Linked DNA regions of Homo sapiens: regions 2 and 3 are each reported to be linked to region 1. Evidence: microRNA targets listed by miRTarBase, many of them from high-throughput screens and not tested one by one. Region 1 holds a microRNA gene; each other region holds the end of a gene's coding sequence.

Region 1 (3,148 bases):
GATAGTGGCTTGCCAATATTTAATGCTCTAGCCAGCAGGTTGAAAGTCTCTTTAGAAATTCTTATCTCTTAGAAATTCTTAACTGTCATTTTTGCTAATAGACAATGACAAAATATTCTGCAGAGCCTGTACAACTGCATTGACGTTATATTTCTATATCAACATTAAATAATCCTCACATAGTTTGGTTGTAATTTTTAAAATATCCATTGTAGCTGTCTACAACTGCTGTCCTGCCTAGCCCATTGTGCAGGGCCTTCTCTGCACCAAAGCAATTTCATTGTATAAGTTTTTAAAAAGATATGATCCTGCTGGACTGTGATGCTAGCCAGCATATCAAAATTGAAGCCACTGTGGGAAAAAAAAAAATCCATCCTCAAAAATAAAGCGATTTCTTACTCATTCTGAATCTACCTATAATGTCTATGTTTTTGTGAAAATATGGAAGAGTATATAATGATAACTATTTATCTCTTTAGATGAAAAAATGTAAGCCTTTCTTTCCTTTCTAATAAACACTATCATCTCAGATCCTCCCAGTATCTATTTTAAGGTTTAAGCACCATTACGGAGCCTACAACAATAGATCAGTGACAGGCCTGATCCCATCAATTAACACATTCTAGGGTGGCTGTATGGATTCTGGTTTTCCTACCTCCCTCTTACAGGCCTGGTTTTGACACATTGACATCCCTGGCCTTAAGGATGAATAACCCAGTTAAGGGGAGTTCCTTCCCTGAGACCAATTCCTTTGTAATTAGAGCCAAAATACAAAGGTTGTTAATGACCTAAGGCAAAGTGATATGAACTCTAAGCCAATGAAACCATGACAGCAAGCAGATTTCTAAATAGCAGAGAAGTGGGATCCATTTACTTACATGAAGATTCAGTGCCAAACATGGCTGGCTCCAGAGGCTGCTTTTTAAAAATTAGAAGAAAGAAAAGGGAAAAAAAAAAGAAAGAAAAGCGAGGAGAGTGTACATGTGAGAGTGAAGAGATGAGCCGGCTACACAGCAGGGGTCATGAAGCCAGACAATGCAGTCCAAGCTGTGTCCAGCTGCCAGATTCTCCTGTTACGAGCTTCAGTTTTCTCCCGGTGTGATTGAAATGCAAGGTCTCTTAACAGCACCAAAAACCGAAGAGCTGCTTTTGAAAATCCACTAGGCAAATGAAGGCCGACGTGCCTCTTCTGGGATGCGGTGAGGCTGGACTAGGTAGCAGCAGGGGCAGGACTGGGAGCAGCAGCAACAGCGGATACTGCAATCCCCAGCCCTGCTGTAGCAGTAAGACAATAGCAGGGCTTATGCATACGCTGGATGACGTCAGGGACACTGCACAGACCGACTGCGCTGCTTGAGCCAGAGGCTCCAGGGGCTCCAGGAGAGCAGCGTGATTGAAAGGGGAATTCCTTTGTCACAAAATGCACAAGACCGAGAGCCACGTATACACTCCCCTCCTGCGCAGCTCTTCATCCCATGATACCAGGCAGTAAAAGAGGACTCAAAGAAATTTAAATATTGGCTTTATAGCAATTAACCACAAAGACATCATGCATATCAGTCTTCTTGGTTTTGCGCAGCATATAGAAAGAACTTTTCAAGGGAATTAAGAATATCAGAAATGAGAAACATTATCTGTCTTTAGAAGTAATTACAGAAGAGTTCATTGTTATCTTCTCAAAGCTTATGGTAGATTGACAGATCAAGGATTGTACACTCAATCACAAGTATGTGAAAATATGTATACTATTACACATATATTCTAGGCACATAAATACATACAAATGTAACAGTAAAATAGTAATCTTAAGTACTTAGAACACTGCTTGGCACACAGTGAGTACTCAAATGCAGGCAATTCCATTACTAGCTATTTTGCAACTATTGTTCAAATGTGAAAAACGCTGCTCTAGGAATATATTTACATACATGTATTTCTCCTATTTCTTCATCGTGCCTTACATGAATTTCTGTCATTTTCCAGAGCAACTCAGTCATTTTAAGGCTGTGTGCACACACCTGTGTATACCTCTGTATGAGTAAGCATTTGTGACCAACCCATTTCTTTTTGATCTACCCACACAAAGAAATAATTGAAAATATTTTATCTCTTGACTCACTGGAACAAAAAATGTCTTCCTGTGTTACCATATTCTTATAAATCTGTTTTTAAAGAAAAAGTACTAGAAGCATATGAACTTTCATTAGCTATCCAACACAAGCCAAAAAAAGAGTTTTGTTATGTTTTTAAAATACTGAAATGCACAAAAAGTAAATATATATACATATATACGTAACTTTTAAAATCATATATAGTAGAAAGTTCAATAGTTCAAGTCTCCTCTCCACCCATTCATCCAAGGTATATGCCTTTTCTAATTAATTTCTTGTGTTCACAAAGACATGTCTTGATCTCAATACAGTTTTTAAATATTAAATTCTGCTATGAAAGTGGAACCACATATTACTTTAACATCTAAAAATATCATTAGTACTTTTTCTGGTCAGTATATGTAGGATCTACCTCATCCTTTTAAAGACTGCATAAGATTCCACTGTATGAATGTACCACAGTTTATTCAGGGTAACTTGATCTTTAGCTTACTAAAAATGCTGAGCCATTAAGAAGAACATTTGATGATGCTAAATAAGATAAAGAACAAATCATCTGTTGCGGGAAAGAATAACAATAGCTAATATTTACTGAGTGTTTACTATGTGCCAGGCACTATCCTGGGTCCTTTACATGTATAAACCCATTTAATCTTCATAATAACCCTACAAGGTATATACCACTTTTATCCACATTTGACAGATGGTTAAATACTTTGTCGAGGTCACACAGGTGGTGAATGATATACTGGGCTTCAAACTCAGGAGTCTGGATCCAAAGCAATGCTCTTAAGCACACTACGATAATGCCTCTTTCTTGAACAATGAATAAATAATCAGCAAAATTATATTTAAGGATTTAACTGAAATGAAGGGAAAATAGAAACCAACTCAAAACATGAAGAAAAAAAATCGTTAAAAGAGAAAGGTCATCAGAGAAAGAAAAAAAATCACAGAAAATTGCAGGAATTAATAAAAATGTATACCTTCAAAAACAGTCACATCGACAACCAAGGGGGAATATCAATAATGATGTT
Region 2 (3,000 bases), not on the chromosome of region 1:
CCGGACCCTGCAGAGCTGTAAGACTGGCAAGGCCAAGATCACCGGCGGCTATCGGCTCCCGGCCAAGTGTGAGTCCCCGACGCGCCCCCAGCTGTGGGGCGCAGACAGGGCGCCCGTGTGTCACTGGGACATCAGGGGTGCGGCCCCCACAGGAGTGCTGGGGAACTCCTCAGGGGGCCCTTCTTAACCTTAAGGGCCAAGACCCGGCCCCCACCCCGCACACCCCAGGAAGCACATGGGGGAGACCGTGCGTGGAGGCTGAGGATGGAGCTGGGGGGCAACGCCTTCGCGCCCACACTCGCGCTCGGGTCTCAGCCGGGCCCATACAGATGTGGGGAGGGGGCGCGGGGCTCTGTGCGCGTGCGGATTCGGGCTCGAGGGGGCCCACAGGGGTGGGGGCCTTCGCGGAGGAGGCTCAGCGCTTGGGGGGAAAGGTGTTTCCTGCCCCCTTCTGCCCAGGCCGGCAGGGGGAAGCGAGGGAGCTGAGGACCGCGTAGACCCCCGCCGGTCTGACCCCGTCGCCCCCCGTAGACGTCATCCACACAGTGGGGCCCATCGCCTACGGGGAGCCCAGCGCCAGTCAGGCTGCCGAGCTCCGCAGCTGCTACCTGAGCAGTCTGGACCTGCTGCTGGAGCACCGGCTCCGCTCGGTGGTGAGGGACGGCCCGCGGGGGAGGGCGGGAGGCGGGGCGCAGTGACAATGTTCCAACCCCCTCTCACCCCTCCCCGCCCAGGCGTTCCCCTGCATCTCCACCGGCGTGTTTGGTGAGTCTGGAAGAAAGGCAAGGACCAGGAGTGGGCGGTGGACCCAGACGCCGGGAGGGGCCGGGGCGGACAGGGGAGTGGGCGGGGCCAGAGCCTAGGACTCACTCCCGCCCCACCCGCCTCAGGCTACCCCTGTGAGGCGGCCGCCGAGATCGTGCTGGCCACGCTGCGAGAGTGGCTGGAGCAGCACAAGGACAAGGTGAGTCCTGGGCCCGGGCGAGGGTGGGGTCCGCATCCCGGCCAGAGTGACCAGCCCCCATCATCGCCCAGGGAGTCAGGGTGCAGAGCGCAGGGCCAGGCCCGCCCCTTCCTTCCCTGTTTCTCCTGCGCAAGGGCGCCTGGCGGTGGCGAGATGGGGGTGATGGCACACAGCCGTGAGCCTCCGTGAAGGGCGCAGGGCCAGGCAGGTGAAAGCCTGCACCAGGGCAGGCAGTCACAGGATCCTGGGGCCAGGCGTGGCAGCTCGGCCCAGGCTGAGCAGCCCCTGGCGCAGGTGGACCGGCTGATCATCTGCGTGTTCCTCGAGAAGGACGAGGACATCTACCGGAGCCGGCTCCCCCACTACTTCCCCGTGGGTACGTGCCCCGCGCCGCCCCACGGCCCGCCCCTGCCCCGGTCCACCCTGGGGGCGGGCTCTCACTGTCCTCTGCCTTCCAGCCTGAGGCTCCCGCAGCCCACCCTGACCGGGACTGGTAAGCAGGGCCTCGCCCCGTGCGGCGGCCCCGGCCCTAGACTAACCCGCCCACTAACCCCCGCTCACCCCCAAGCAGGGCGGGAAACCACGGGGCAGCCTGGGAGGTCGGGGACGCCCATAGACACCTCTGACTCTGCTCTGCCCTCAGACCCGCCTTCGGGACCCCGCTCCCAGCTCTGAGAGGTCGCCAAAGCCTGCAGCCTGGCCTGGGCCTGGCCACCCCTTCTTTCCCTCCGCGCCCCGCCCCCGAGGAGCCTAATAAAGATCTCGTTGTGGCAGCTCCTACTGTCTGAGCTCTGACTGGGGGGAAGGAAGGCGGCCCAGGTGTTGGATGGAGCCCCTGGCCAGATGCTTTCACTGAAAGGGGCTGGCAAGAGCTCTCGGTGAGCCAGGCGGGCAGAGGCACAGGCGGACGGCAGAGGCGGCAGCAGCAGTTCACATTTATTGAGGGCCTGCCCCCAAGGAGCTCACAGCCTGGGGGCTGAGACCCCGAATGTGCAGGGGGCGGGGAAGAAAAGAGGTGAAGGCAAAAAGGCAGGCAATGCAGAGACACCGTGGCCCAAGCAGAGGGGGTGCAAGGCAGGCACAGGCAGGGGGCCTGGGGCGGATGGGGAGGTGGAGAACCGGCAGCCCTGCCTAGACCTGAGGACTGTAGACCCCACACGTTTGAAGGCTGCCCTCCCCCACCAGGATGGCACTGCCCGGGCACCCTGTGGGAGGCCCAGCTCCTCCACCTGCCCTGAGCCGGGTCCAGCCTCACAAAGGCCCCTCCACCCAGGACTCCCAACCATGCAGACTCCCGGTGGAGGGCAGGAAGCTGGGGTCTGGGGCCCAGCCGGGACGTGGAGGTGGGGCCTATGAGGGAGCAGATGAAGTGTGGGTGGCCCTGGGACCCTGGGCAAGTCCCTAAGGAACTTCCAGGATCCCATAGAAGCCCCTGAGCCAGCTAAGAAGGGAAGGAAGCAGAACCCAACGAAGCAGGAGGGGCCTCCAAGAGGCCTGGCCCCTCAAACCTGCTCCTGTTGGGGAAGCTCAGGAGTAGATAGGTGAAAAGCAGGGGGACCCACCTGGGGGGAGGGGGCAGCAGACAGAGCAGCCAGGCGGGCAGCAGAGCAGGGACACGCACACACGGCTCACCACCAGCACCCCCTTTAATAAAACATGGGGGGGGGTCATGTGACAGGAAGAAGGGGGTGAAATAGGACCATTTACAACCACAGAAAAACCTCTGTACATGTCTAGCGCCTGGCAGAGGGGGGCAGCAGGGCAGCAGCGGGCTGGAGCCAGCCCTATTTGTAGAGGATATCGTAGTGTCCAGGCCGGTAGAGAAGGTAGACCTTGGGCTCGGAGCCCTCAGGGAAGATGTGCGGATTGGTGGTGCCGCCCTCGCCGCGGTCCATGTACTCCACCTGGATGGACACGCTGAGGGCCTGGGCCAGCGCAATGATGTGGATGTGGTCGCTCTCCTTGCACATGGGCTCCACCTCCTGTGGCACAGGTGCCGGTCAGGCCCTGGTCTCCGCACCCCGCCCCAGGCCCTG
Region 3 (3,000 bases), not on the chromosome of region 1:
GAGGCCTTATGGAGCCTCAGGGCCAGCCGCTCTGACGCATGGCTTCCTCTTGAAGATGAAACCTTGCTCCACCTTCTTCCTCCCTAACCCCAGGTGGAATTCCCAGAGGCCCGAATCTATGAGGAGACACTCAACGTCCTACTCTATGAGACTCCCCGCGTCCCCGACAACTCCTTGTTGGAGGCCACAAGCCGTAGCCGCAGCCAGGCTTCCCCCAGTGAAGATGAGGAGACCTTTGAACTGCGGGACCGTGTCCGCCGCATCCACGTCAAGCGCTACAGCACTTACGATGACCGGCAGCTCGGCCACCAGTCTACCCATCGCGACTGACCAGACCCTCAGGGAGTCAGGGCACGGGAGGCCCTATCTCCCATCCTGTGGAACCCGCCCCATTGGCCACCCCATGCTGCTGCTGCCTGGGTCTCTGCTCTAGCACCCAGAGGCATGACAGGCCCTGCTCAGAGGTCAGAGGGTCTGGGCAGAGGAGGGACCACATTCCCCTGCCTTGCCCCTGAGCACTTCTGGAGACTGCGTCCTGTCCTATCTGCTCACCATCACCCTTCCTGCCCGACGGAGCTGCTTCTGCTCCCTGGGGCATATGGACTGACCCACCTCCTGCTGAGAACCTTCCCCTAGGCCCTGTGCAGAAGGCTACTGCCCCTTAGGCCTCAGCTGGGGGAAAGGCAGTTCTGGTGCTGTAGAGGCCCTGGTGCAGAAAGTGGGACGTCTTTTTTCCTAAGGTGTTTAAGCACAGGCTTGATAAGTTTGGTTTTTAAAAAATAATCTAGGAAATGAATAATTCTAAATCTAGTAATGAGGAAACTGAGCATTTCTTTTGCCCTCCAGGGTGCCAAGACCCTACATATGACAGAACCCTTGGCCCTTCTCCATGCCTGTGGGATCTGTTTCTTTAAAGCACTTTGTACTGTTATTCAGGAGGTTGATAATCTCCTTGACCCATGTCTTTCTACCCTAATCCCCACTTCCCTGCAGAATCAATCTGAGGGAGGGGATAAAGAGGAAGCAATAAAAAAAAAACATCCGACAGAGCAGCTCTGGCTTTGCAGCCTGGCCAGCAGCTCAGAGTGCACCGAGGAGGGAAGGATGGCTAAGCTGGGACCGGCAGTCCTCACAGGGTGCCTGTGAGAAAGGACATTTTACCCCCACATCATAGTCACATCACTGACTCCTAGGTCTAGCACGACTGCTCTTTGTGATTCTCTTGAGTACCCTTGGCTTCCAGCCATGCTGTCCTCACATACGGTAAAGCCAAAGAGCTGTCACATGGGCCAGAAACATGAGCCACGGCAGGAAGACCGTGGAGCCCGTGGGCACTGCATGGTGTTGGCTGGCATGCCCATCAGCTGAGGACAGCAAACTCCCAGCAGCCCCTACAGAGGTGGCACATGCTTGGCCACACATCTACTCCCTGCCCACACCATCTATGCTCTTGGTTGGTGCTGGCTGGGATGGCGGTTCTGCCCAGTGGTGTCTCTGAGCGCGGGATGACAGGAGCAACCGAAGCACCCTGAAGGCCTTCACTCCTTGTTGGGTAACTCAGCCATGGAGATGCCAAGCACTAGCCAGGAGGTGAGTTCCTCTTTAGGGCTTTGGTTTTCATTCCTTTTTGTTTGGCTTGGCCAAACCAGAATTCAGCTTATCTGAATTATTTTCCAAAGGAATGCTGTCAGGGAGGGACTGTTCTGCCAGCCTAACAAAGCAACGTAGCCACGTATAGTACCCACTTTCTGCTCTTTGGAGAGAACACAGGTTATCAAGTTCATCTCTCTTGACTACTCTTATGATAGCTGATGCCACAGAGCCTATGGGCAAATGCCAGACCCAGGGTTAGACACAAGGACCTGAAGTGACATGACGGCGGGACAGGGGAAATGTGACTTTCTAATTAGGCATTTTATGTTAGTCACAGTCTTGAATGTATAAACAGCACTAAGACTCTCAGGTCAGGTACCTTGGTGATCAGCTACTAGTTCTTCCAGCCCTCATTGAGGTAACAAGATAAAGACAAATCCACTTCTTTGGCCAAATTCAGGCTTTGGCTTTATGACTTTCCCACAGAGACTGGAATGCGTCAGCCTGAGACCACTGGCCTATTTTCTCAGCTGCCCTCTTGAGGTCCTTTAACACTCAAATTCCCAGCTCCCCACTGAGGTGTTGTGATGCTTGCCTTTTGACCTCCCCATCCCCTTTAGTCCCTGCTTACTACTTTGACATTCACATCCTCAGTGTCTCAGTCTTTTTTGCCGAGAAAGCACAGTAGTCTGGGACTGGGCATTTATCTTCTCTGACTGAAAATCTCTCCTTGGTCTTAAGGAAAATACTAACATTGAACTCACTGACATGATCTTAGCTTCTTTAATCAGACTTTGTGACTTAAAAGTTTGGGGGTTTTCTTTGAAAGTTTCCAGCCCTATTCAGAAAGCAACTCTTGGCTGTGTGCATTTTTCAACTCCAAGCAGCCCAGGGGTAAGTAAACAAAGTATGGATGAAGGTCAGATTTTCTTGTCAGTTTCTGAGAAACCTGGCAGCCTGCTGTTAACAACACAGGCCAGTATTGGGTTTTATTGAATTTGGTATGTGACCAAGGTCGGCCTAAAGGATGGCGCAGGTCCTGGGCAGGAAAGAATTTTTCCTTTATCACATAACTGTAATATTTGGTTGCTCAGCATAAGTGATGGAAGCAAACACTAATTTCTAATAAAATTGTGTTAAACTCAATGGTACAGAGCCATGTTTACAGTGAGCAGGCCTTGACCAGCTTGCGGCCATGGGCTGAGTTCCTGTGCTTCTGTTTATCATCTGACCTTGTGTTCTAGCCAGGTCGTAAGCGCGACTGTACTGTTGCCCTGCAACCCCAGCTCCCCCTGGAGGACTAAGGACAAGAATAACAAGGGCTGGAACTGTGATTTAATATTAATTCAAGAAAACTACCTCTAACAATCACTGCAGTGGCGGAGGAAAAGAAATCCTAAGAATTGG

The links. Region 1 holds the annotated microRNA hsa-miR-6132 (AGCAGGGCUGGGGAUUGCA, at 1,259-1,277, opposite strand). A microRNA usually pairs through its seed, bases 2 to 8, with sites in the 3' UTR of a target mRNA and lowers its output. Matches are read on the target gene's strand: a 7mer-m8 pairs with bases 2 to 8, a 7mer-A1 pairs with bases 2 to 7 and ends in A, and an 8mer does both.
Region 2: miRTarBase lists OTUB1 as a target of hsa-miR-6132. Seed matches in the 3' UTR shown: 7mer-m8 at 2,721-2,727 and 7mer-A1 at 1,956-1,962.
Region 3: the mRNA of TNFAIP1 is a reported target of hsa-miR-6132. Seed matches in the 3' UTR shown: 7mer-m8 at 452-458 and 7mer-A1 at 986-992.

Annotation. Positions count from the first base shown.
Region 1 is chr7:117,018,360-117,021,507 of GRCh38, reverse strand. MIR6132 (microRNA 6132) reads right to left here and starts at 1,297; the gene lies at 1,189-1,297. All of the region lies in intron 1 of ST7 (suppression of tumorigenicity 7), which reads right to left. RefSeq lists an enhancer at 1,059-2,258.
Region 2 is chr11:63,997,295-64,000,294 of GRCh38, reverse strand. It overlaps OTUB1 (OTU deubiquitinase, ubiquitin aldehyde binding 1), which reads right to left. Exons shown (of 7, transcript NM_017670.3): 7 at 1,883-2,946. The coding sequence ends at 2,749. It overlaps MACROD1 (mono-ADP ribosylhydrolase 1), which reads left to right. Exons shown (of 11, transcript NM_014067.4): 5 at 1-68; 6 at 532-653; 7 at 735-765; 8 at 891-964; 9 at 1,259-1,340; 10 at 1,423-1,457; 11 at 1,608-1,737. The coding sequence ends at 1,427. Among named protein-coding and RNA genes, the nearest start is that of OTUB1, 12 kb to the right of the region's middle. RefSeq lists enhancers at 1-680, 1,018-1,107, 681-1,618, 2,555-3,000 and a silencer at 648-887.
Region 3 is chr17:28,344,271-28,347,270 of GRCh38, forward strand. It overlaps TNFAIP1 (TNF alpha induced protein 1), which reads left to right. Exons shown (of 7, transcript NM_021137.5): 7 at 94-2,739. The coding sequence ends at 330. POLDIP2 (DNA polymerase delta interacting protein 2) reads right to left here. Exons shown (of 11, transcript NM_015584.5): 11 at 2,363-3,000. Among named protein-coding and RNA genes, the nearest start is that of TNFAIP1, 10 kb to the left of the region's middle. RefSeq lists enhancers at 1-421, 925-1,428.